Linked DNA regions of Homo sapiens. The protein of the gene in region 1 interacts with the protein of each later gene in a biochemical or structural test. Each region holds a gene or a part of one and is shown in the gene's direction. Other genes may lie near its edges.

Region 1 (3,500 bases):
GGCTTTCAGGATGTCCTGAATCCTCTATAATTGTATACAAAATCGTGAGTTTTTAAAAACTGGGTTAGAGCTATTGGTTCCTCAGAGTCTCAGGCATCTTAGACCCCCAAAAAGGTTAAGGACTACTGACTTAACCAATTAGGTTTGAGTGGCATTGGCTTTGAAGAAAAGCAGAGGAAAGATATATTTTATAATTCTGGGCAACAAAAAAGTGGATGTGTGCCAGCATCTTAGAGTAGAATCCTCTTAAAAGGATAGCACTGCATATGAACTAGTAGGTTTTAACCAGTGCATATTTAGGCGAAGTAGCTCATTTTTCTGTTAGAATTCTTTTTTATTTGGGAATGGGCAAGCTTTTACAGCTTTTACCTTGCCAATGAATACCTGGAATTTAAAAAATCTTGTTAGGCATATTGCCCATAAAGTTTTTTTTCCTAGATCATATATTCAGTAAATATGTTTGTAGCTTTATTTCAATCCCCCAATTCATTGAGGGTTGAAACAATTTGAATGGTTTGAGTGTAGAAGCTAAGTTATTTCTGTAGAGGCTAAGGGCATTTATACCAAGATATGTTAGACTTGTGGTTCCTGCTAACCATTGCTGTAGACAATAGGAATTACTGTATATCCACATTTTAATTTTTAACATCATTCTGTCTTTGTTTGTTTGTTTTTGAGATGGAGTCTCATTCTCTTGCCCAGGCTAGAGTGTGGTGGTGCATCTCGGCTTACTGCAAACTCCGTCTCCTGGGTTCAAGCAGTTCTCCTGCCTCAGCTTCCCAAGTAGCTGGGATTACAGGTGCCCGCCTCCATGCCTGGCTGATTTTTGTATTTTTAGTAGAGACGGGGTTTTGCCATGTTGGCCAGGCTGGTCTGGAACTCCTGACCTCAAGTGATTCGCCCACCTCGGCCTCCCAAAGTGCTGGGATTACAGGTGTGAGCCACCACGCTCGGCCCATTCTGTCTTTATAGCATTATTTTTATAAAGTTAAGATAATGTGAAGTGAGCTTTTACTGAGTTATTCAGAAGACCCTACTTGGGAAGAAAAGAAAATCACATTCACTTGAACTTAATCCTACTTGCTTAAAAAGTTTTGACATCAAGATACTGAACTGTATCACGTTTTAGGACCATAAAATCCTAATAGTGGATGCGTTTAAATAATAGGTTAGCATACTTTATAAATGTTAGTAGAATAGGAAAGTCTTCCTGGTGTATAAACTAAACACTAGAAAAGTTGAATGGACCATAATAATTTATGTAATTATCAAATAGCTAAGTAATTTCAGCTTTTGTTACTTGCTTTTACTATCTCAGTTTTCTGTAATTAAAGTCTCTAAAGTATTCATTAAAATATTTGTAATAACATGGTTGAAGTAAAATAACTTGTAGGAAGTTTTTGATAATACCAAAACTTGATAGGCAGCTTCAATTTTTTTTCTTTATTTTCAGTAATCTATGCCAGCAATTATGACAATGTTAGCAGACCATGCAGCTCGTCAGCTGCTTGATTTCAGCCAAAAACTGGATATCAACTTATTAGATAATGTGGTGAATTGCTTATACCATGGAGAAGGAGCCCAGGTAAAGTAGCCAACCAAAACTTTATAACATTATGACAGTGTAACAGAGTTGTTGGGTTTAGAATAAAATTTTAAATTATCACCTTTAAAAAAGATATTCCATAGTTTGCATTAATTTGGAATTCTGTATTAACCATAATGAAAATTGGTTTGGAGAAAGAAATTGCATGTTTGACATGGTTAGAGTGGGTTGTTTTGGAATATTATACTTGTTTTGTCCTTAAGAGCCAAATGTTATTAAATACTTTGTAGGTATTAAAGGTTCTCTGTACTTTTATATATACTTAATATGTTTGGCACTAATACGATTCTTCTACTTTTAAAACATTTACAGAAGTACTTCACAGATATGTTTGTTTAAATAAAAACAGGAATACCAAGTATTTTTATGTTAGTTGAATTTTGTGCACTTTTCAAAGTGGTACTGTTAATGTAGGGAATTATCTTAAACATAAACCAAATTTTGATCAGTTTAAGATTTTTGGTTTTTTTGAACCCAACTAAAAGGTGAAACAGAAATGTGTGTACAATTTTAAATTGTATATGTCACAAGAAAAAAAACTTGATTTTTTACCTGTGGGGCCAAACTTTTTTTTGAGACAGTCTCGCTCTGTGGTCCAGGCAGGAGTGCAGTGGCGCTATCTCAGCTCACTGCAACCCCTGCCTCCTGGGTTCAAGCGATTGTCTTGCCTCAGCCTCCCTGGTAGCTGGGATTACAGGCACACGCCACCATGCCTGGCTAATTTTTGTATTTTTAGTAGAGATGGGGTTTCACCGTGTTGGCCAGGCTGGTCTTGGAACTCCTGACCTCAGGTGATCCACCTGACTCGGCCTCCCAAAGTGCTGGGATTACAGGCATGAGCCACCGCGTGCTGGCCCAAACATGTTTTTGAATGAGTAAAAAGTTTTGCAGTTGGGTCAGAAATCTTTTTTTTTTTTCAGATGGAGTCTTGCTCTGTCACCAGGCCTGAGTGCAGTGGCACAGTCTCGGCTCACTGCAACCTCTGCCTCCCAGGTTTTCAAGCAATTCACCTGCCTTAGCCTCCCGAGTAGCTGGGACTACAGACGCGCCACCATGCCCAGCTAATTTTTTGTATTTTAGTAGAGATGGGTTTCATCATATTGGCCAGGATGGTCTCCATCTCCTGACCTCGTGATCCGCCTGCCTTGGCCTCCCAAAGTGTGGAGATGACAGGCATGAGCCACCGCGCCTGGCCAGAAATCTTTTATGGTAGTTTTGTTGCCAGAACAGTAGATTTCTGGTTAGATAAATGTTCAGCTAGTAGATGGGAGGTTACTTATATTGTCAAGATATTTATATTTGCATAATTAAGAAACTGAGTGCCGGCCGGGCGCGGTGGCTCACGCCTGTAATCCCAGCACTTTGAGAGGCCGACGCCGGCGGATGACGAGGTCAGGAGATCGAGACCATCCTGGCTAACACGGTGAAACCCCGTCTCTACTAAAAACACAAAAAATTAGCCAGGCGTGGTGGCGGGCGCCTGTAGTCCCAGCTACTCGGGAGGCTGAGGCAGGAGAATGGCGTGAACCCGGGAGGCGGAGCTTGCAGTGAGCCGAGGTTGCGCCACTGCACTCCAGCCTGGGCAACGGCATGAGACTTCGTCTCAAAAATAAAAATAAATAAATAAAATAAAATAAAAAAACCTAAACCTGAGTGCCATTACACTTTCTGAAAATATATAAGGTGGATACAGTACTATCTTTTATAGTAGTCCAAAAAGCATCATGTATAAATGTTTCCATTCCCTTATGAAATGCAACAGTACTGCTTTTACTATAGTAGAAACTTGAAAAAGGTCCATGGAAACGCTAAAAGTAGAAAAAATTACTCTTGCAGTGATTCTGTAAGCTTGTTAGCCCAGGTTTATACTTTTAGGGCGTTTTGATCAGTATAT
Region 2 (3,500 bases), on another chromosome or scaffold:
TTGCTAAAATGATTAGTTAATGACATATCTTAATAAAAATGTATACATTAACAAAAAAATTCCTTGGTCATATCTTGTTTTCTAGGGAATGGTTGTATCTCTTGTCACATGAAATGTTGAATCCATACTATGGCCTCTTCCAGTATTCAAGAGATGATATTTATACATTGCAGATCAATCCTGATTCTGCAGTTAATCCGGTATGATTTGAAGTTATGATGTGAATTGTGACCAATAATGCTTTTCATGTTTACATGTTAATGTAGTTTATTATATAGAAATTATTTGTCCTTGTCTTAGTTGTGCCCTTTGACTCAGCAATTCCCCTTCTATAAAATTTTCCCAAGCAGATGATTATGGATATATGCACCAATTTGGAAACAGGGATGTTTATTGTTTATAGTAGCACTCAACTGAAAACAACATAGTTGTCTTCAGGAGCGGGGACTGATTAAATTATGACATGAAGCAGAATAATGCAAATGATTAAAGGCATAGGTTCTGGAATTAGAAAGACGTGTCGTGGTCTCATCACTTACTAGCTTTGTGACCTTTCAGGGCAAGTTCATGGACTTAAGCTTCAGTTTTGTCATTGCTAATAAATACATTTGTACCTCAAAGAGGGGTTATGAGAATGAAATGGGACCCTGCACATTAAGCACTTAGCACAGTGCTGTATGTTATTCACTCTACAACTCTATCAACTACATTACTAAGCACTCAACAGAAGTTAGCAGTTATTACTAATGTATTGTTTTTATATTGTCTTTCCATATAAGGGCATACTATACAGCCACTAAAATGATAATGTGGGATAATAGTTAATGATATGGAAAGATGGTGTTTATGATGTGTTAAGTGAAACGAAGGTTATCAAATAGTATAATGCAACTTTGGTAAATATATATGTTTGTGTGCGTGCGCGTGTGTTACTTTTAAAAAAGAAACAAAAACAAGATAAAAGGTTTAAAGACGAGCTTAAAAGATTACTTAGTAAATAGAGAGGTAAAAGAATTTAAAAATACAAACATCTAACAAAACAATCTGTGACGAAAGACCAAATATATATAAAAGGGTAGAAATGTTAGATTTGTTTCAAGAAGTTATTTAGGGAGGATTTTGAGGTGAAGGTTCTTTTTGGAGGGCCCACTACTGCCCCTGTAGTAACAATAGCCCAGACTCATTGACTGCTTATAACATGCCAGGTCCAGTTCCATGGGTTTCAAACATCACCTCATTTTACTCCTCATAGAGATGCTTTTTAGATACTGTTATTATCCTCATATTTCCAGATGTGGACAGTTAGTCTTACGGGGGTTAATTTGTCCATATGCCATTGACTGGCAGAATCGTGATTCTAATTCAAGTCTGACACCAAGTCTGTGCTCTTAAATCTATGGTGTTTTGATGTTTAATTTCTGGTTAGGTCAAGGAAGTAGGGAGGTTTAGGATTGAAAGATTTTTTTTCATGACAAAGGGCTCAGCAGGAGGTGAGAGAAGGAAGAGAAAAGGATCTGCAAGTAGTTGAATGAAGCTCCGGGACCATAGTTTGGACTTAATTTCTAAAAGATAAAATTTACAAAATGACTGGCCCCTGCGAGAAGGGCATATTACCCTGTGTAATATGCTGTTCTCTGGTGATCTAGAGACTCTGGAGCATGCCCTAGAGAAATACTCCCTCCTGACTCTATTGAAGAGTAAAAATTTTATGCTTATTCTCAAAAAGATTAATGTTGCTGAAATATTTCATTTTTATTAAAATTTTCCTGGGTAGTGCCTAACGAGTATATATACTGTTTTCAATTTCAGGAACATTTATCCTATTTCCACTTTGTTGGACGAATAATGGGAATGGCTGTGTTTCATGGACATTATATTGATGGTGGTTTCACATTGCCTTTTTATAAGCAATTGCTTGGGAAGTCAATTACCTTGGATGACATGGAGTTAGTAGATCCGGATCTTCACAACAGTTTAGTGTGGATACTGTATGTATTGAGTCTTCTATCTCTTCATTATAAACTCTGAGCTTTAAAAAAAAATATGTTTCAAAACTGATGTACTTAAAAAAATTACACAGAAAATATTGAGTGGTTATTTGAGTGATAGGATCGCATATGATTTCCCCCTTTCCTGTAGCTTCTTTATACATTTCAAATTCCTTAAACTTAGCAAGTGTTACTACTTTAAAAAGGAAAAAACAACTAGTATATTTCTATTTTTAAAAGTACTTTATATAATTGTTTCCTCAATGTGATACAAATTCTGTTCCAAACCTGCGTGTGTTAGAATAGCAAATTCTTGGCTGCTGTTGCTTTTAATGAAGTGGCGATTGTTGGAACCGTACTTTTAGAATAAGAACTAATTGTTGAATTTAAGCTAAGAACTGATTCTGTTTTGCAAGAGGTCATTATTTTGTGAAGATACACTGGCAATGTTTATTTTTTATAAAGTATACAGTAGCTTTCTCACTAGGGATACACAGGCACTTGGCCCCTTGGAGTACAGTACCGAGTAGGGCTCTTCAGAATGCCAAATGTAACTGAAATTGTCCTATATTGGTGGTTCTAGCAAGGCCCAGCTTTGACCAAGGCTCTTTCTCATTACTCAGGAAGTTAAATGTTTTCTGTGTTTATGAAGGTTAAAGCTCTTTGACTTTTCTGTCCAGAAAGAACTAGGTGGTATGGAAGCAGAATCTGACCTCACATTTGTTATATTATAAAATGATCTTAGTTTTATCTCACCAATTAATACATCTATAGGGTCTGTATTTTAGGTTTCCCAGTTACATATCTTTTCCTCTTTCCTATCCAGTGAGAATGATATTACAGGTGTTTTGGACCATACCTTCTGTGTTGAACATAATGCATATGGTGAAATTATTCAGCATGAACTTAAACCAAATGGCAAAAGTATCCCTGTTAATGAAGAAAATAAAAAAGAATATGTCAGGTAAACACTCCTGTGTTCTCAAGGCTGAATTTTTTAAAATGTTCTAGAATGTTAGTATGAACAAACTTAAATATTTAGATAGTACTACTTAGTGTTACAAAATCCGCTTCAGGAGAATTTAGTGGCTTATTTAGAACAGACATTTTATTATTTCTCACAATTCCATGGGTCAGGAAATTGGGCAAAAGAACAACATGGATGACAACACTGGTGTTCCACAAGATGTCAGCTAGGCCTGCAACACCAAGATGGCCTCTTCACTCATAACTAGGATAACTCAAATGGCTGAGGGCTAGCTGGCATGGCTGTTGACTGGGGTCACTGTCTGGGGCCTTGTTCTCATTGTTGGCTGAGTTCCTTGGTTCTCCCTATGTGATATCAAAGGCCATTCCCTCTCTCCATGACCACTCCCTCTCCCCATAGCCACTCCCTCCCCCCATAGCCACTCTCTCTCCCAACAAGATAGCCAGACTTCTTATGGGGTGGCCAGCTTTCTAAAGCTCAAAAGCAGAAGCTGCTAGATCTTTTTAAGGCCTAAGCCTGGTCCT
Region 3 (3,500 bases), on another chromosome or scaffold:
TCTCTAGATTAAAATATGGGTTAAAAAAAAATCCTTAATTATAGAATCATAGATCTTTGAGACAGAAGGGACTTCAAGAAATTCTTTCATAACGCCATCTGCCCTAAGTTGTTATCAGGAGGCTTAGGTGACTTGCCCAAAGTCATAGATGAATACATAATGTCAAAAGTTCCTACATTTTGGATGTTCTTCCATTCCAAGCAGTTTAAGAATGATAATAATAGTGAGTGTTTATACTGACTGTGTGTGTTAGACTCTGTACTAAGTGCTTTATATGCCTTGTCCCTCGTTCATGCCTACCACAGCCTTATGTAGTAGGTACTATTATCTTCATTTTATAGGTAGAGAAACAGGCTCAGAGTTTAAGTAACTGTCCAAGGTCCCAACATTATTAAGAAGCAGAGCCAAGATTTTAATCTATTGTCTGCTATTTATTGGTTATTTTGCAATTGTGCATTCCCCTTCTGAGAGTCCCCCTAAGCATGTTAGAATAATTGATTGCCATTTTCAAAGTTGTGTTGAAATTGTCTATAGCAAATAGATTGATGCATAAAACAATCTTTTTTTATGGTTATGGAGAAAAATAAACTGATTTGAGATACCTTGTGTATTCAGTAATTTCCATTGAATATTAAATGTTTCTGCATTTACTATTTGTTAACTTATTTCACTTTTGCATATTTGTTTTAAAAGGCTAAACAGCAAAAACGCCCATTTGCCTATCATAAGCTTTTGAAAGATGCAGGAGGCATGGTGATTGATATGAAGTGGAACCCCACTGTCCCCTCCATGGTGGCAGTTTGTCTGGCTGATGGTAGTATTGCTGTCCTGCAAGTCACGGAAACAGTGAAAGTATGTGCAACTCTTCCTTCCACGGTAGCAGTAACCTCTGGTGAGTAATAAAGGCTTTCACACTGTAGCATACAATCATGGTCATCTACTTAAGAATTGATTTCTAGAAGTGAAAGTGGATAGCTTTTTGTGTTTTGGTTTTTTTTTTCATGACGAGGGAGGTTAAGGATGGAAGGTATTCTTTTTTGAGACAGTCTCACTGTGTCGCCCAGGCTGGAGTACAGTGGCATCATCTCAGCCACTGCAACCTCCACCTCCTGGGTTCAAGCAATTCTCGTGCCTCGGCCACCCAAATAGCTGGGATTATAGACATGCGCCACCATGCCCAGCTAATTTTTGTATTTTTTGTAGAGACAAGGTTTCACCATGTTGGCCAGGCTGGTCTTGAACTCCTGACCTCAAGTGATCTGCCCTCCTCCACCCCGCATATGCTAGGATTACAGGTGTGAGGCACTGTGCCCGGCTGAGAGTATTCTTTATACCCATAGTTAATGTCCTTGAAGCCAAACAGCATACATAATTTAACCTGAATGTACTTGGGATTTCTGGAGAAATATTTTGGTACAGCTGGTTTAGAAGTGTTTTTTGGGAATAATTGTTTCTGGATCTGTAACGGTGGTACTCTGAAAGTCATTTGTACCTTTGGGCGGAAAAGCATTTTAAATATTAAATGGGAGCAGGAGAATGATTTCTGGTTTTGTTTTTTTTTTTTTGTTTTTTTTTTGAGACAGAGTCTTGCTCTGTCGCCCAGGCTGGAGTGCAGTGGCGCGATCTCAGCTCACTGCAACCTCCACCTGCTGGGTTCAAGCAATTCTCTTGCCTCAGACTCCAGAGTAGTTGGGATTACAGGTGCCTGCCACCATGCCCAGCTAATTTTTGTATATTTTAGTAGAGACGGGGTTTCACCATGTTGGCCAGGCTGGTCTTGAACTTCTGACCTCAAGTGATCCGTCCGTCTCATCCTCCCAAAGTGCTGGGATTACAGGCATGAGCCACTGTGCCCGGCCAGTGATTTCTTGGTATTTGGAAACCTTCTCTGTTCTCCTTGTCTTATGTAAAGACTACAGAGTTTTCTGTATTTTGCAGCTTTCTGGGCAGTAATCTATTGAAAAAGCATTTTTAGCTTTCAATTCAATAGCCCAGTGATAAATCAATTGGCTTATATCGTTAAAATGATTTTACTTTTTTCCACTTTGCCTGATAGAGATGATCCTACAATCTTCCATGGACTGACAGAGGAATGAGAATTGATAATTAGCTGTGTGTGATAGATCTTATTGGTTTGCTCCATTTTCTTGTTTTCATTTGGTAATACTGTCTTTGCTCAGTGTGCTGGAGCCCCAAAGGAAAGCAGCTGGCAGTGGGAAAACAGAATGGAACTGTGGTCCAGTATCTTCCTGTAAGTTCTTATCTTGAACTTCAGAATTTTTCTTAAGTTGCCCACTTTTTTGGGGGTGGTTTGGGAGTATCTTTCTTGTTTTTCCTATTAAAAAGTAATTTATACTCATTGTAACAAATCCATCAGTGAATGAAGAGTGGAACTCTTCCCTTTCCCATAGTCCTTCTTCCAGAGGCACCCACTATGTTGTGTTGAGTAGATAGCCTTCCATACTTTTCTGGATGTTATACAAATAGTCTATGGGTAGCTGCTTTTTTTTTGTTGTTGTTTTTATGTAAAATGTGATCATACGCTATGCGCTGTTCCCCACCTTTTTCAGTCCATTCCATAAAAACAGCTCAAGGGAAAAGAGTTAGTGAAAAAACTATGATGATAATGCAGAATCACTCTGGGTTAAAGCACAGTATTTGTCTTTTAACTGAGTCTGTCTTTAAAGGTCTGTTTGTCTAACTATGGGCACCAAAGAAAATGGATACTCTTGTTGCATGTGCACTCTGTCATCCTCCCTGTGAATTTCTTGAAATAATGTTCACAAATATCCTTCAATATCAATTGAGTTGCAAGGAACCCCCATATGTCTATTGAGCCTGGACACGAAGGAGGGATTCACAGGTGGTGCTAAGGCCTTTCTTGTGCCTTCCTCCTCAAGACTGTTCTCTGGCGAGGAGGGGAGCAGAGTGGTGAATGTAGGTGGTATAGGTTTAAGGTTAAGGTTATGTTTCTTATTTGTTATTACCAAAAGTTACCTGAAATTTGGTACATAATCTTTTAGGACACTAACCTGTAAAAAGATAATGCAATTTTTTAAATTTTCTTGCTTTGCTGTTTGCCTTAATTTTTTATTTATTTATTATTATTTTTTTTTGAGAGATGGTCTTGCTCTGTTGCCCAGGCTGGGGTGCAATGGTGTGATAACGTAATGGTTCACTGCAGCCTCAGCCTCCTGGGCTCAGGTGATCCTTCCACTTCAGCCTCCCGGGTAGCTGAGACTACAGGCACTTGCCACCATGCACAGCTAATTTTTGTATTTTTTGTAGAGATAGGGTTTTGCCATGTTGCCCAGGCTGGTCTCAAACTCCTGGGCTCAAGCAGTGTGCCCACCTTGGCCTTCCAAAGTGCTGGGATTACAGACATGAGCCACCTCGCCCAGCCTTATTCCACTATTGATGATTGTCTGCATCAGTGCTAGTGGCGTTGCTGCTGCAAATGGTGTTGCATTGACTACTCTCATTACCTATATCTGAACATG
Region 4 (3,500 bases), on another chromosome or scaffold:
CCTTGCGTGCTATAGTTCCAGCTCCAGGCCAGTGGTTCTGAGCAGCCATGGTCAGAAGCAAGTAAGTTGGATTCAGGGCCTGGCCTGAGGGAGCTGTGCCCCGGTGCTTTTAAGGCTGCCGTTTTCTCAGACAGCCTGTGTCCTGATGCCAGGAGAAGCAGCAGTGGTTTTAGTCAGATCCCTGGAGCAAGGATGTGGAAGACGTAGAGGACTTGGGGTGTAGGAAAGCTGGGATTGTCCGGAGGGACATGGCCGAGTTGGGCCAGTGTCCGAGGCGGGTTCAGCAGCCCCTGGGGCTGGCTCTCCCTCCATTTGTGCCTGGGGCTGTCTTCCGTAGCCACCTGGCTCCCCATTTGTCCACCTTACCGTGGTCTTTTCTTTCTCATACCCTCCCTGGGTGGCTCCACAGGCACGGCTTGGTGGCTGCTTTCTCTTGCTTGGGTTTGGTGAGGGCTAAGCACGCAAAGCCCAGGGAAGCTTTTTTGGGGTCTGGGTCTCCTTCAAGGGTCAGTCCTGTGCGTCAGCTTTGCAGCCACCTTGGTCAGCCCTAAGGCCGAGCCCACCGCCTGCAAGGTGCAGCCGTCCTCACTCCCCTCATCTCTCTCTCTCCTCTCCCCTCTGCATTTCTCTCTTCTCCAGACCAGCTCCTCCACTGTGGCTCTGAGTGCCCCGGGGCTGTCCAGCTCTGCTCCGTCCTCATACTGCTCCCTTCCTCCTTCTCCTCCTCCCATGCCATCTGTATTTCTGCCACCCACCACTATACCCTCCCCTCGAGGCCAGGGCCACACTCCGGAGTTCCCTTGTACTGAGCAGAGTGGACGAGGCCTTCTACCTCCTGTAGCCCCCAGCTGGCTTGATTTGGCTGGTCTTGGGGTGATGCCTGACACCTTCAACTCAAGGTCTCCCTCTGTGGAGGGTTCTCTGTGGGCAGTGGGCACAGAGAGTCAGGGTCGAGATTGGAGGCACCTGCCGACCATCACAAGTGAGCTCTCTGGGGCTCCCCGCTGCCACACTGTACCCTGTGCTGGGAGCACAGCTCTCCAAGAGCCTGGGGAGCCCCAGGGGCCACCAGCCAGCCCTTCGTGCCCAGAGGAGGCCTTGGCTGCCACATGGGAGCAGCCATGGGCTTCGGAGGTATTCGGGCCTGAGAGAATGCCCCCCTCTGGAGCTGCTCGAAGCTTCCAAGAAGTAACAGAGCCAGCTGTAGTGGCAGTGGACCGGCAGGCCATCTTCCCAGATACCTGGACTCTCACGGAGGAACATGGCCTACAGCAGGAGAGGCCAAGGCCAGAGCCAGGGAGGCTGGGAAGCAGCTCCCCTGCCTCAGTTACCACGGAGCAGCTAGGTGCAAAGATGACCGAGAGGGGAAGTGTGGCCAGGCCAACCCAGGGACCTGAAACCCCAAGGAGCCCAGAGGGCACCACGGAAGCTGCCACCCAGGACGGGAAGGAACAGCCAGAGCTTCCATGTGCCATGGCCATGGGCACACCCAGCACCACGGAGAGGATTTCCACCTCTGGCCAGGCAGGCACCAGCTCGCATGGCTGCTGGGCATGGCCATTGGCGGGTCTGAGTGTGGGCCGCTCCTCGCTAACTGCATGCAGCCTCCCACTCTGCGCATGTCTGCTTGGGCAGAAAATGCTGAGACACTGTGGCCGGACCTGACAGTCAGCACTTGGCAGTGGGCTCTGTGGACCCAGCATTTCTCATAGCGTCAACCCACCTCTTGCCTTGTTGAGGCTTTTTCCTTTCAGATGAGCTGTCCTTGACATTCTGATGTGGTGAAATGGTTAGCAGCATGGACTTTGGAACCAGATAGACCTAGATACAAACCACATGTCTAACACTTGCTACCTCTGTGACCTTGGGCAACCCCCTCCCTCAGCCTCAGTTTTCTCATCTGTAAAGTGGGGAGAATTTCCATCAAGATTGTCCGGAGACCTAAATGAGATAATTCCTGGAAAGTGTTTAGAACACAGCATGTGGTCCCTCAATAGGCCGTGGCTGACAGTACTTTTATTACTTGCTTTTTGCTTAAATTAAAACTTTATGCCGGGCCAGGTGTGGTGGCTCACGCCTGTAATCCCAGCACTTTGGGAGGCCGAGGCGGGCGGATCACCTGAGGTTGGGAGTTCGAGGCCAGCCTGACCAACATGGAGAAACCCCATCTCTACTAAAGATACAAAAAGATTAGCTGGGCATGGTGGCGCATGCCTGTAATCCCAGCTACTCAGGAGGCTGAGGCAGGAGAATCACTTGAACCCAGGACGCAGAGGTTGCGGTGAGCCAAGATCATACCATTGCACTCCAGCCTGGGCAACAAGAGTGAAACTTGGTCTCAAAAAACAAAAACAAAACAACAACAACAACAAAAAACTTTATGCCTCACCCTGGCACAGTAGCTTATACCTGTAATCCTAGCACTTTGGGAGGCTGAGGCAAGAGGATCGCTTGAGCCCAGGAGTTTGAGACCAGCCTAGGCAACACAGTGAAACCCTGTCTCTACAAAAAATTAAAGATTAGCTGGGCGTGGTTGCACATGCCTATAGTCCCAGCTGCTGGGGAGGCTAAAGCAGGAGGATGGCTTTAGCCCAGGAGTTTGAGGCTGCAGTGAGTTGTGATCGCACCACTGCATTCAGCCTGAGCAACAGATCAAGACACTGTCTCAAAAAAAAAAAAAAAAAAAAATCCCCCAAGCTTTATGCCTCTTTGGAAAACAAAACGAAACAACCAAAAACCCCCAAAACACTACCAACAAGTATAATAGCATAATATAATATTAGCATAATAATATAAATAAGAAAAAAAAAACTAGTTAAAAAAGTTCCTGGCTAGCTGAGCACGGTGGCTCACACCTGTATTCCCAGCACTTTGGGAGGCCGAGGCAGGCAGATCACGAGGTCAGGAGTTTGAGACCAGCCGAACCAACATGATGAAACCCCATCTCTACTAAAAAAAAAAACAAAAAACAACAACAACAAAAATTAGCCAGGCGTGGTGGTGCATGCCTTTAATCCCAGCTACTCAGGAGGCTGAGGCAGGAGAATCTCTTGAACCCAGGAGGCGGAGGTTGCAGTGAGACCAGATCGCGCCACTGCATTCCAGCCTGGGCGACAGAGCGAGACTCTGTCCCCCCCCAAAAAAAAGTTCCTGGAAGGAAACACTTTTTCTATTATAAATTAAAAAAAAGAAAAAAGAAAAAGCCGTATGCCTTGTCAAGGGCATGCACTTACATCCTCTGGAATAATTCTTGTGCAAACCCTGTGCGGTAAGCCAAGAAAATCTTGTGGTTCCATTTTAAGGAAGGGGAAGCTGAGGCCCATGGCAATTAAGTGTCTTGCCCAAGGTCAGTGGCCAACTTAGAGGTGAATGCTGGGTCAGAGGTCTCGCTCGCAGCCTGTGCTTCTGGAGCCAGTCCGATCTGCCCCCTCCCCTTGCCTCTACCCACCTCCACCGGTCCAATCTGCCCCCTCCCCGTGCCTCCACCCACCTCCGCTTGG
Region 5 (3,500 bases), on another chromosome or scaffold:
GTCTCAAACTCCTGACCTCAAGTGATCACCCACCTCAGTCTCCCAAAGTGCTGGAATGACAGGTGTGAGCCGCCACACCCATCCCAGACTAATGCTTCAAACAAACCACTCTGTTGGGTAGAGAGTGAATTGCAGATTCCTGAGAATGTCACTGTCTCCAATCATGTGATGGATGATGGAGGCTTGGACCCTGGCAATGGAGCAGTGAAGATAAACCTGATCATCTATTTGGAGGAAGAGCCCACACCCACAGGATTTGCTGATTGATCAGACATAGGGAGTGAGAGAAAGAGGAAGAGTCAAGGACAAAGTCTACATTTTTGCTTTGAGTAGCAGAAATGACGATGGAGTAATTTACTGAAATGAGGAGGACAGAATAAACAACAAGACACTGGGTCTGGGGGTGGTAGTGAGGGGTGACCTCAGAGATCCATTGTGGACCCTCTTTTCTTTTTTCCTTTTTTTTTTTTTTTTGAGACGAGATCTCTCTCTGCCACCCAGGCTGGAGTGCAGTGGCGCAATCATAGTTCACTGTAGCCTCAACCTTCCAGGCTCAAGAGATCCTCCTACCCCAGCCTTTCAAGTAGCTGGGACTACAGGTGCGTGCCACCACACCCAGCTAATTCTTCATTCTTATTTTTTATAGAGACAAGGTCTCACTATGTTGCCCAGGCTGGTCTTGAACTCCTAGCCTTAAGCAATCCTTCCGACTTGGCCTCTCAAAGTGCTGGGATTACAGGTGTGAGCCACCATGCCCAGCCTCATTGTGGACTTTCATTAAGCATGAGATGACTATTACAAATCCAAGTTATCAAGGAGGCTGTTGAATGTATGAGTCTGTTGCTCAAGCACAAGATTAAAGGCAGCTCTGTGGAATCAGGGGGAAGATGGAGCCATGGAGGGAAGGGAAGAAGACTGGCCAGAGGGGTAGGAGAAAACCAGGGCAATTCCAGAATCCAAGAGAAGAGCGTGTTTGAAGGACAGAGTGTTTAATGGTGTTAAACTCTACAGAGAAACAGAAAGAAGCGGGGAAGAAAGGAGAGGTGAAGAGAGGAGGGGAAGAGAGAGGAAAGGGTCCATTGGATTGACAGCTGGAGGCTCTTGGCAATTGTGTTGAAAGCAGCATCAGAGAGCTGGGAGAGTGGAAACCAGATTGGAGAGTGCTCCAAAGAGAGTGAGTGGGAAGGTGGAGATAGAGTAGATAACCCTTTGAAATGGTTTGACTATGAAGGGGAGTATGAAGGAGTTAGGATGACTGCAAGGGAGTGATTAGAATGATAGGTCATGGAGTCTGGGCTGCACTCAAAAAGAAATAAAGATAGAGGCCGGGCACGGTGGCTCACACCTGTAATCCTAGCACTTTGGGAGGCCGAGGCGGGTGGATCACTTGAGGCTAGGAGTTCAAGACCAACCTGGCAACACAGCAAAACACCATCTCTACTAAAAATACAAAAAAAAATTAGCCAGACATGGTGGCATGCACCTGTAATCCCAGCTACTCGGGAGGCTGAGGCAGGACAATCACTTGAACCCGGGAGATGGAGGTTGAAGTGAGCTGAGATCATGACATTGCACTCCAGCGTGGGCGACAGAACAAGGCTCTGTCTCAACAACAACAACAAAAGGATGGGGTGATAGTGAAAAGAGAGTGTCAGTGAATTGACAGTCTCAGTAGGGCTGAAGAATTTTTGCAGCGATGGTATTAGATTACGGGAGCTGGAAGGACATGAGGTGAAGTCAAAGTGGGGATGTTGAATTCGAGATTTTGGAGGTGTTTCAGTGACTGAAGATGACAAGGCGAGGGTGAGGTTTCTCAACATTGGTACTATTGATACTTGGAACTGGACAATTCTTTGTTGTGTGGGGCTGTCCTGTACATTGTTCAGCTGCATCTCTGTCCTGTACCCATAAGGTGCCAGTAGCACTTCTCCAGTGGTGACAACCAAAAATGTCTTTGGATATTGTCAAATGTCTCCTGATGGGCCAAAATCATCCCCAGTTGGGAATCGCTGTTATGTGATAGCTCATTTCATTCTCACTTTGACCCTGTGAACATGGGGTTATTATGAATCAGGTGTCATTGAGATCAGGATCAGGAGCCTGTGGTCTGTTGCCAAATAATTAAGAGCTCTCTGGGCTCAGTTGTCTCATCTGTAGAATGGGCTAATAATAGTATCCATCCTATAGGATTGCTGTGAGGATTAAATTATGTGAAACATGGGAAGTGCTATACAACAGTACCTGGCACGTGATAATTGTTAATTATCAACAATTGTTATTTATCACTGAAATAGATGTACTGTAGAGATCGCTTGCAAGCGTTGAAATTCCATCATCGTCATATTACTCACCATAGGCTATTATTAAACCATATCCCATGTGGTATTTTTACTCCCTGACATATGTTTGAAGCGGTTACTGTGTTCCAGACAATCTGCTAGGCCCTCAAAGAAAGAAGAAAAATACCTCTGAAATTGTAATGCTCATAGACAGAAGAAGTGGTTGTTCCTAAAAGTTGTGTTACAGACAAATTACTATGAGAAATCCAAGGAAGGAGAATCAGGAGAGGCTTCTAAAGAGAGGAAATATATGAGCTGGGATTTGGGCTTATGGACATGGAACAGGTTTGGGGTGGAAAAACATCTCTGACAGAAGCAACAACGTGAGCAGAAGCATAGAGATAGAAAAACACAGGGGACACATAGATGCTATAAGTAGGTCAGTTGGCTGCAGCAGAGATGTGGGGGATGAGGCTGAAAGGTGAGGCGGGACCAAATGGTTGAAGGACTTGCACTCCAAGGAGCTTTGAGAGCCATTGATTACATCCATTATGTTACTATGTGACCAATACACTACTCATTAGAACATTTACGTGATCTCAGAGCTTCCTTATATGCACCTTGTTCCTTTCAACTCACTTTTGTTCTCTTGGTTTTTTGGGGTCCTCTTAACACCCTCATGAAGTCTATAGATGGGAATGGTACACCCTAGTTTACTAACCCAGGAATAGGTACCCAACAGGCACTGCCAATATTGGATGGGCTGGTTGATTGGCCACGCCTGAGGAAGATGGCGTCCCAAGGCCTGAGGTCTGCATCCCAGACTCTCCATCCTGATCGACCTTCTCTACCTGCAGGGTCCCCCAGCGATGCACCCCATGCCCACCACCCCCTGCACCCTCACCTGATGCAGGAACATATGGGAACCAACGTCATCGTTGCCAACACAATGCCCACTCACCTCAGCAACGGACAGATGTGTGAGTGGCCCCGACCCAGGGGACAGGCAGGTGGGCAAACTCTGGGATTTTACCTTGCAAAGGGTGAGGATGGGGCTTAAGACAGGAGGCAGGAGAAAGTGGAGTCTAGAAGGTAGAACCAGGATGCAACAGTTTTCTGGGTTCCAGGGTAGGGAATAAAGGGCAAGATTGTCCATTTGTTGAGGCTGTTTATTCAGTAAGGTGACTGACAGCCTTTACTGAATGAAGCCATTGTTGGGAT
Region 6 (3,500 bases), about 18 Mb from region 1:
ATAGCATTTATGACATTTAGGAAGGTAGAAAGGAAAGTCAGTTTAAAGGGAAGAGTGACAAAAGGCATACTATATTTCCTTTTTCAGGAAATTTTTCTTTTCTTTTTTCTTTTCTGTAGACTGTGCAACTTACATCATCTGAATTGGAGTCCACACTTGAAACACTAAAAGCTGAAAATCAACCTATAAGAGATGTCCTAAAGCAACTCATATTAGTGCTTTGTTCAGAAGAGGTAACATTTGTTTTAATATTTAAATATTATTAAGGCAAAAAATTCTTGGTAACAATAAGAAAAACCAAATATAATATTTATGATTTTTACAATTGATCGTTATATGTCAGGCTTGTAAAGAATGCAATTAAATGAAAGGTTAACTAATTTCAGCTACACCTTGAATGGCATGTTTTCTGGTTGCTGTAGTTTGTTTACGATAATCTGCAAAGTGAATGATAGTAACAGCTGTGATAGGTTTATCATACATGCCAAATGTCCTTTCAAGCCATGGCTCCGGTCTCTTATATCTAGATTGTCAAGCAACTGATACACGCAGTAGTCATTTGCAAGTCAAATATTACTAGGTTGTTAATGCAGGGATTGAAATTCCATTTTCCTGCTGGAAAAAAGCTCTTTCTGAGATAAAGGGTCCCTTGCCTTTTTTCAGCGGGCATCCAGCTGTACTTTGTGTTCATTTTAGTGTATGTCTGCAATTTGTGGGATATCACTAGACTATTTTTCACTTTCTAGTTCAATATAATTGAGCCATAAACTTGTAGTTTTAGGGAAAAAATATCATGACTAACTTTATGATTATAATCTGCTACTGTTAAATTCTAAAATATTTCTTCATATTACTTGGATACTAAACTAGACTGAGAAACTTTTCAATGATACATATTTCTGCATCCTGAAATTAGACTGTGATTAGGATTTGATTTGGGAATTACTTAATCTGGAAGTCTTTTTTAAATAATACCATACACAAAGCCTAAAACATCAAATTTGGCATAAATAATGGCCTATTTTATATTACAGATAACACATCTTTTAACCCCTACACGTGTAAGACTTGCCCACTTCTTAGAGGTGAATAAAAATATCAAGGGGCAGAGTCAGGTTGTTAACATGAAACCATTTATTTTTAAAGTACTATTAACTTTTTCTAAACTCTGAACAGTAAAGCTAAAAATGTGACATTTTTACCTTCACACTGATTTCTTCTTTTTCACATCTATGCTGTATTTTAGAATATGCAAAAAGCCCTTGAATTGAAAGCAAAATATGAATCCGACATGGTTACTGGTGGCTATGCAGCTTTAATAAATTTATGCTGTCGACATGATAAAGTAGAAGATGCCTTGAACTTGAAAGAAGAATTGTGAGTACCCTGGCACTGAAACAAGTTGTCAACATTTATTCTGCTCTACAGACCTTGATAGATTATCTAGATGGAATATTACTCTCTTATATAATGTCATTTTTAAAAATTCTTTTGTTGTCAGTGTTTTTGAAATTTCGTATTATACGGCTCTTTAATTAATTGTGGCTTATGTTCAGCAAGGTGTCTTTGTTTAAGTATGATAAGACATTCTAGTCCTTAGAACCAAAGGTTTTTTTCCATTGATTATATATCATCACAACAGTGGTGATGGTGGTAACTGTTTTAAGAGGCTTGATAACATTTCCCTTTCAATATTGTAGTGTAAATAAAATTCTATCCATTTCTCAGGTACCTTTGGCTTCCTATCCTGTTAGATTTTTCAAGTAAAAATGTCAAGTATTCGTGATGAAGGTTAGAATCACTTAAAGCCAAAGAGTTTCTTCATAAGTATCCTTTGCAGATGGAGTGATGCAATATATATGTAGTGTTGGGCTTTTACTTCACTAGTCACTTTGAATATAATTTCGTGTGAACTTGTATATGGCTTCAAAAAGAAATCCTAACTGAAGCGTAGAGGCCAACATTAGTTCAGGTCTTCTGATGAGCTTTTGAAAAGTGATTAAATGGATGTTGCTGTTCTTTTAGCAGTTAATTGACTTTTAAAACAATATAAATGTGGCTTTAATTTTTAGTGACCGCTTAGATTCATCTGCTGTCCTTGACACCGGCAAGTATGTAGGCCTTGTAAGAGTATTGGCAAAGCATGGCAAGCTCCAAGGTAAGCCTCAGCACATAAAGGAAATATGTGATGCAAGTATCTTGCCACTGGAATAACATGTGAATTGATATTAATGGATATCATGTCCTGCAAAGTGCTTGAACACTTTGCATAGAAATTTGCATGTGAATCCAACCAGAGCTACATGGACAGTGTAGGCCATTAGTTTTAATGGATTGGCAAGCTTGTCATTTACATTTGCACAGCTCAGTGCTTTTTGCATTTCTGCAGCTAGTTTTTATTAGCATTGCTGTTTGGATTGAGTTTGAAGATCATGACTTATGGCACAATTTGCTTATGTGCCTGCACTAATGGCTTTGTTTTTGCTTAAGAAGGTCTGAAGGCTGAACGTAAAACCTATAAACGTAAAACCTATAAACATAACCTAATATATGCGCCTGAATTTTGCAGTAGTCTTTGCCTTACTTTTTAATAACATTAACAAAATATATACTTTAAAGTTTTTATTTTAATTAAGGTTTTTATTTAATGGTTCATGGAAAAAGCATAGCTGATTACACAGCTGATTTGCATACTCAAATTTTCTCGTTGAGATAATGCTAAGCCTAATAAAATTAATTACACTTGATAATACATTCATACTATTTTCTTGTTTCTTAACTTTCTGATTTGGCTTTATTTTGAAATTTCCTTTTTAGCCTTCCTCTTTTCCTTTGATTTTCAGAAAAGATTGTTTTAATTTTATTATAGGGAAAAATGTATGGAGAAAATCATTTATTAGAACATTGAATGTTTTCCTAGGACGCCTTTCTAACTCTTTCTAAGGATTAGCCTATTTTTTTAAAATCACTTTTTGTAAAGTGGTCAAAACATTTTGTCTGTGTAATAATTAAGAACAACATTATAAAAATGCACTTATTCCATATCCTAAAATGTTTGTTTCTGCCTTCCTAATGAAGCTTAATGAATCTAATGTATTAACATGCAGTCTTTTGGAAAGCTTTCATTGGCTCTGCTTGGCTAATTAGTATCGACATAGCAAACAGGCCCTATCGGTATCAGACCATTAGTCTGGCTGTATATACAGTGTAAACACATCTTTATTATCTGGCCTCCTGACAAGCCATCTGCTGAAGAAACAATGGTGTGATTTAGCAGATGTTAGCTCTGAACGATAAAAGCATCCATTTAGGAGGATCTTACAGCTATAGGGCAGACCATACAGGGTTATGTGGTACAGAGTGGGCACATAGTCCCTATCTATAATTTGTAGTCAAAGTTGCAGGGAAATGATAAAACCATGCTATTGTGGATTTATAATTGTAGTCTCGTTTAGAAATGCAAGTAGTAATTAACTTGAAATCGGCATTATACACTAGAA
Region 7 (3,500 bases), on another chromosome or scaffold:
TCCAAAAAAAAAAATCAGCTTGTTGTGTGTTGTAGGTACACACACACACACAAACATACTAAATGTAAGGTGGTGGGGCGGGGGGAGCCAATAGACTTTTTTGAAAGAGATGGACCCTCACTTTGTCACTCAGTCTGGGTTAGAGTTGCGTGATCTCGGCTTACTGCAACCTTCACTTCCCGGGTTCAAGCGATTCTCCTGCCTCAGCTTCCCAAGTAGCTGGGACTACATGCGCGTGCCACCAGGCCCAGCGTATTTTTGTATTTTTGAGTAGAGATGGGGTTTCACTCTATATGTTGGCCAGGCTGGTCTCAAACCCCTGACTGCAGGTGATCCGCCCTCCTGGGCCTCTCAAAGTGTGTGAGCCACCACGCCTGGCCTGAATTTTTTGTGATTGTGAAGTCAATAGTTGTTTCCTGTAAGGAATCTTTGTTGAAAGGTATGTCTGCATAGAGTAGAAGTTCTCAACCTTGGCTGCATGTTAGCTTGAAGTAGAACATTTGGGCCTAGACAGGGTGTATTGATCTCATTCCTGACCCTACCCACTTCCCTGCAGAAAATGGAATTTAAAGGAAAAAAAGTTTAAAGGAACCCCAGTACTTGTGCTCTACTTATGGAGATTGTCATAAAAATGGTCTGGGGTGGGCGCCAGGCATCAGACTACAGTGACTTTCTTGCTTTATTCTTAGGGATTTTCTGATTTCCTTTTTTTTTTTTTTTTAACCTGATGAAATAGTTTATTTACAATTTAAACGAATAAATTTCATATTCTACAACACATATAATCTATTGACTAAATGTAACTAATGATGAACCTCCATACAAACAACCCCACTAAAAAGTGGGCAAAGGACATAAACAGACACTTTTCAAAAGACATACAAGTGGCCAAAAAGCATATGAAAAACAGCTCAATATCACTGATTAGAGAAATGCAAATCGAAACCACAATGAGATACCATCTCACACCAGTCAGAATAGCTATTATTAAAAACTCAAAAAACAACAGCTGCTGGCAAGGTTGCAGAAAAAAGGGAATGCTTACACACTCTTGGTGGGAGTGTAAATTAGTTCAACCATTGTGGAAAGCAGAGTGGCGATTCCTCAAAGAGCTAAAAACAGAACTACCATTTGACCCAGCAATCCCATTACATTCCCAAAGGAATATAAATCATTCTACCATAAAGATACATGCACACAAATATTCACTGCAGCACTATTCACAATAGCAAAGACATGGAATCAACCTAATACCTGATATGGTCTGGCTTTGTGTCCCCACCCACATCTCATCTCAAATTGTAATCCCCACGTGTTGGAAGAGGGGCCTGGTGGGAGGTAATTGGATCATGGGGTAGATTTCCCTCTTGCTGTTCTGTTGATAGTGAATTCTCATGAGATCTGGTTGTTTGAAAGTGTGTAGCACCTCCCCCTTTGTGCTCTCTCTCTTCTGCTGCCATGTAAGATGTGCCTTGCTTCCCCTTTGCCTTCTGCCATGATTGTAAATTTCCTGTGGCCTCCTAGCCATGCTTCCTATACAGCCTACAGCACTGTAAGTCAATTAAACCTCTTTTCTTCATAAATTACCCAATCTCAGGTAGTTCTTTTTTTTTTTTTTCATTTTATTTATTTATTTATTTATTTTTTATTTTTATTTTTTTTTTAATTTATTTTTTTATTGATAATTCTTGGGTGTTTCTCACAGAGGGGGATTTGGCAGGGTCATGGGACAATAGTGGAGGGAAGGTCAGCAGATAAACAAGTGAACAAAGGTCTCTGGTTTTCCTAGGCAGAGGACCCTGCGGCCTTCCGCAGTGTTTGTGTACCTGATTACTTGAGATTAGGGATTGGTGATGACTCTTAACGAGCATGCTGCCTTCAAGCATCTGTTTAACAAAGCACATCTTGCACCGCCCTTAATCCATTTAACCCTGAGTGGACACAGCACATGTTTCAGAGAGCACAGGGTTGGGGGTAAGGTCACAGATCAACAGGATCCCAAGGCAGAGGAATTTTTCTTAGTGCAGAACAAAATGAAAAGTCTCCCATGTCTACTTCTTTCTACACAGACACGGCAACCATCCGATTTCTCAATCTTTTCCCCACCTTTCCTGCCTTTCTATTCCACAAAGCTGCCATCGTCATCCTGGCCCGTTCTCAATGAGCTGTTGGGCACACCTCCCAGACGGGGTGGTGGCCGGGCAGAGGGGCTCCTCACTTCCCAGTAGGGGCGGCTGGGCAGAGGCGCCCCTCACCTCCCGGACGGGGCGGCTGGCCGGGCAGGGGGGCTGACCCCCCCCACCTCCCTCCCGGACGGGGCGGCTGGCCAGGCGGGGGGCTGACCCCCCCACCTCCCTCCCGGACAGGGCGGCCGGCCGGGCGGGGGGCTGACCCCCCCACCTCCCTCCCGGACGGGGCGGCTGGCCGGGCAGAGGGGCTCCTCACTTCCCAGTAGGGGCGGCCGGGCAGAGGCGCCCCTCACCTCCCAGACGGGGCGGCTGGCCGGGCGGAGGGCTGACCCCCCCACCTCCCTCCCGGACGGGGCGGCCGGCCAGGCGGGGGGCTTACCCCCCCACCTCCCTCCCGGACGGGGCGGCTGGCCGGGTGGGGGGGCTGACCCCCCCATCTCCCGGACGGGGTGGCTGGCCGGGCTGAGGGGCTCCTCACTTCCCAGTAGGGGCGGCCGGGCAGAGGCAACCCTCACCTCCCGGACGGGGCGGCTGGCCGGGCGGGGGGCTGACCCCCCCACCTCCCTCCCGGACGGCACGGCTGGCCAGGTGGGGGGCTGACCCCCCCACCTCCCTCCCGGATGGCACGGCTGGCCGGTCGGGGGGGCTGACCCCCCACCTCCCTCCCAGATAGGGCGGCTGGCCGGGCGGGGGGTTGACCCCCCCCCACCTCCCTCCCGGACGGGGTGGCTGCTGGGCGGAGATGCTCCTCACTTCCCAGATGGGGTGGCTGCCGGGCGGAGAGGCTCCTCACTTCTCAGACGGGGCAGCTGCCGGGCGGAGGGGCTCCTCACTTCTCAGACGGGGTGGTTGCCAGGCAGAGGGTCTCCTCACTTCTCAGACGGGGCGGCCAGGCAGAGACGCTCCTCACCTCCCAGACGGGGTCTCGGCCGGGCAGAGGCGCTCCTCACATCCCAGATGGGGCGGCGGGGCAGAGGCGCTCCCCACATCTCAGACGATGGGCGGCCGGGCAGAGACGCTCCTCACTTCCTAGATGTGATGGCGGCTGGGAAGAGGCGCTCCTCACTTCCTAGATGGGATGGCGGCCGGGCGGAGACGCTCCTCACTTTCCAGACTGGGCAGCCAGGCAGAGGGGCTCCTCACATTCCAGACGATGGGCGGCCAGGCAGAGACACTCCTCACTTCCCAGACGGGGTGGCGGCCGGGCAGAGGCTGCAATCTCGGCACTTTGGGAGGCCAAGGCAGGCGGCTGGGAGGTGTAGGTTGTAGTGAGCCGAGATCACGCCACTGCACTCCAGCCTGGGCACCATT

What was found.
Region 2: the proteins of XPO1 (region 1) and SMURF2 form a complex in vitro, tested with the Homo sapiens proteins (one study listed by BioGRID).
Region 3: the proteins of XPO1 (region 1) and NUP214 form a complex in vitro, tested with the Homo sapiens proteins (one study listed by BioGRID).
Region 4: the proteins of XPO1 (region 1) and PXN interact in a test that uses a peptide from one of them, tested with the Homo sapiens proteins (one study listed by BioGRID).
Region 5: the proteins of XPO1 (region 1) and HNF4A form a complex in vitro, tested with the Homo sapiens proteins (one study listed by BioGRID).
Region 6: the proteins of XPO1 (region 1) and LRPPRC form a complex in vitro, tested with the Homo sapiens proteins (one study listed by BioGRID and IntAct).
Region 7: the proteins of XPO1 (region 1) and NPM1 interact in a test that uses a peptide from one of them, tested with the Homo sapiens proteins (one study listed by BioGRID).

Annotation. Positions count from the first base shown.
Region 1 is NC_000002.12:61,531,857-61,535,356, reverse strand, and holds part of XPO1 (exportin-1), read left to right. Parts: intron 1-678; exon of another isoform or gene 679-934; intron 935-1,453; 5' UTR 1,454-1,459; coding exon 1,460-1,585; intron 1,586-3,500. UniProt on the Homo sapiens protein: Mediates the nuclear export of cellular proteins (cargos) bearing a leucine-rich nuclear export signal (NES) and of RNAs.
Region 2 is NC_000017.11:64,554,308-64,557,807, reverse strand, and holds part of SMURF2 (E3 ubiquitin-protein ligase SMURF2), read left to right. Parts: intron 1-85; coding exon 86-200; intron 201-1,809; coding exon 1,810-1,988; intron 1,989-2,814; coding exon 2,815-2,952; intron 2,953-3,500. UniProt on the Homo sapiens protein: E3 ubiquitin-protein ligase which accepts ubiquitin from an E2 ubiquitin-conjugating enzyme in the form of a thioester and then directly transfers the ubiquitin to targeted substrates.
Region 3 is NC_000009.12:131,128,586-131,132,085, forward strand, and holds part of NUP214 (nuclear pore complex protein Nup214), read left to right. Parts: intron 1-693; coding exon 694-892; intron 893-2,180; coding exon 2,181-2,251; intron 2,252-3,500. UniProt on the Homo sapiens protein: Part of the nuclear pore complex. Has a critical role in nucleocytoplasmic transport.
Region 4 is NC_000012.12:120,217,231-120,220,730, reverse strand, and holds part of PXN (paxillin), read left to right. Parts: exon of another isoform or gene 1-639; coding exon 640-1,524; intron 1,525-3,500. UniProt on the Homo sapiens protein: Cytoskeletal protein involved in actin-membrane attachment at sites of cell adhesion to the extracellular matrix (focal adhesion). Recruits other proteins such as TRIM15 to focal adhesion.
Region 5 is NC_000020.11:44,425,199-44,428,698, forward strand, and holds part of HNF4A (hepatocyte nuclear factor 4-alpha), read left to right. Parts: intron 1-3,136; coding exon 3,137-3,289; intron 3,290-3,500. UniProt on the Homo sapiens protein: Transcriptional regulator which controls the expression of hepatic genes during the transition of endodermal cells to hepatic progenitor cells, facilitating the recruitment of RNA pol II to the promoters of target genes. Activates the transcription of CYP2C38.
Region 6 is NC_000002.12:43,943,990-43,947,489, reverse strand, and holds part of LRPPRC (leucine-rich PPR motif-containing protein, mitochondrial precursor), read left to right. Parts: intron 1-119; coding exon 120-233; intron 234-1,246; coding exon 1,247-1,377; intron 1,378-2,072; coding exon 2,073-2,158; intron 2,159-3,500. UniProt on the Homo sapiens protein: May play a role in RNA metabolism in both nuclei and mitochondria. In the nucleus binds to HNRPA1-associated poly(A) mRNAs and is part of nmRNP complexes at late stages of mRNA maturation which are possibly associated with nuclear mRNA export.
Region 7 is NC_000005.10:171,401,349-171,404,848, forward strand, and holds part of NPM1 (nucleophosmin), read left to right. Parts: intron 1-3,500. UniProt on the Homo sapiens protein: Involved in diverse cellular processes such as ribosome biogenesis, centrosome duplication, protein chaperoning, histone assembly, cell proliferation, and regulation of tumor suppressors p53/TP53 and ARF.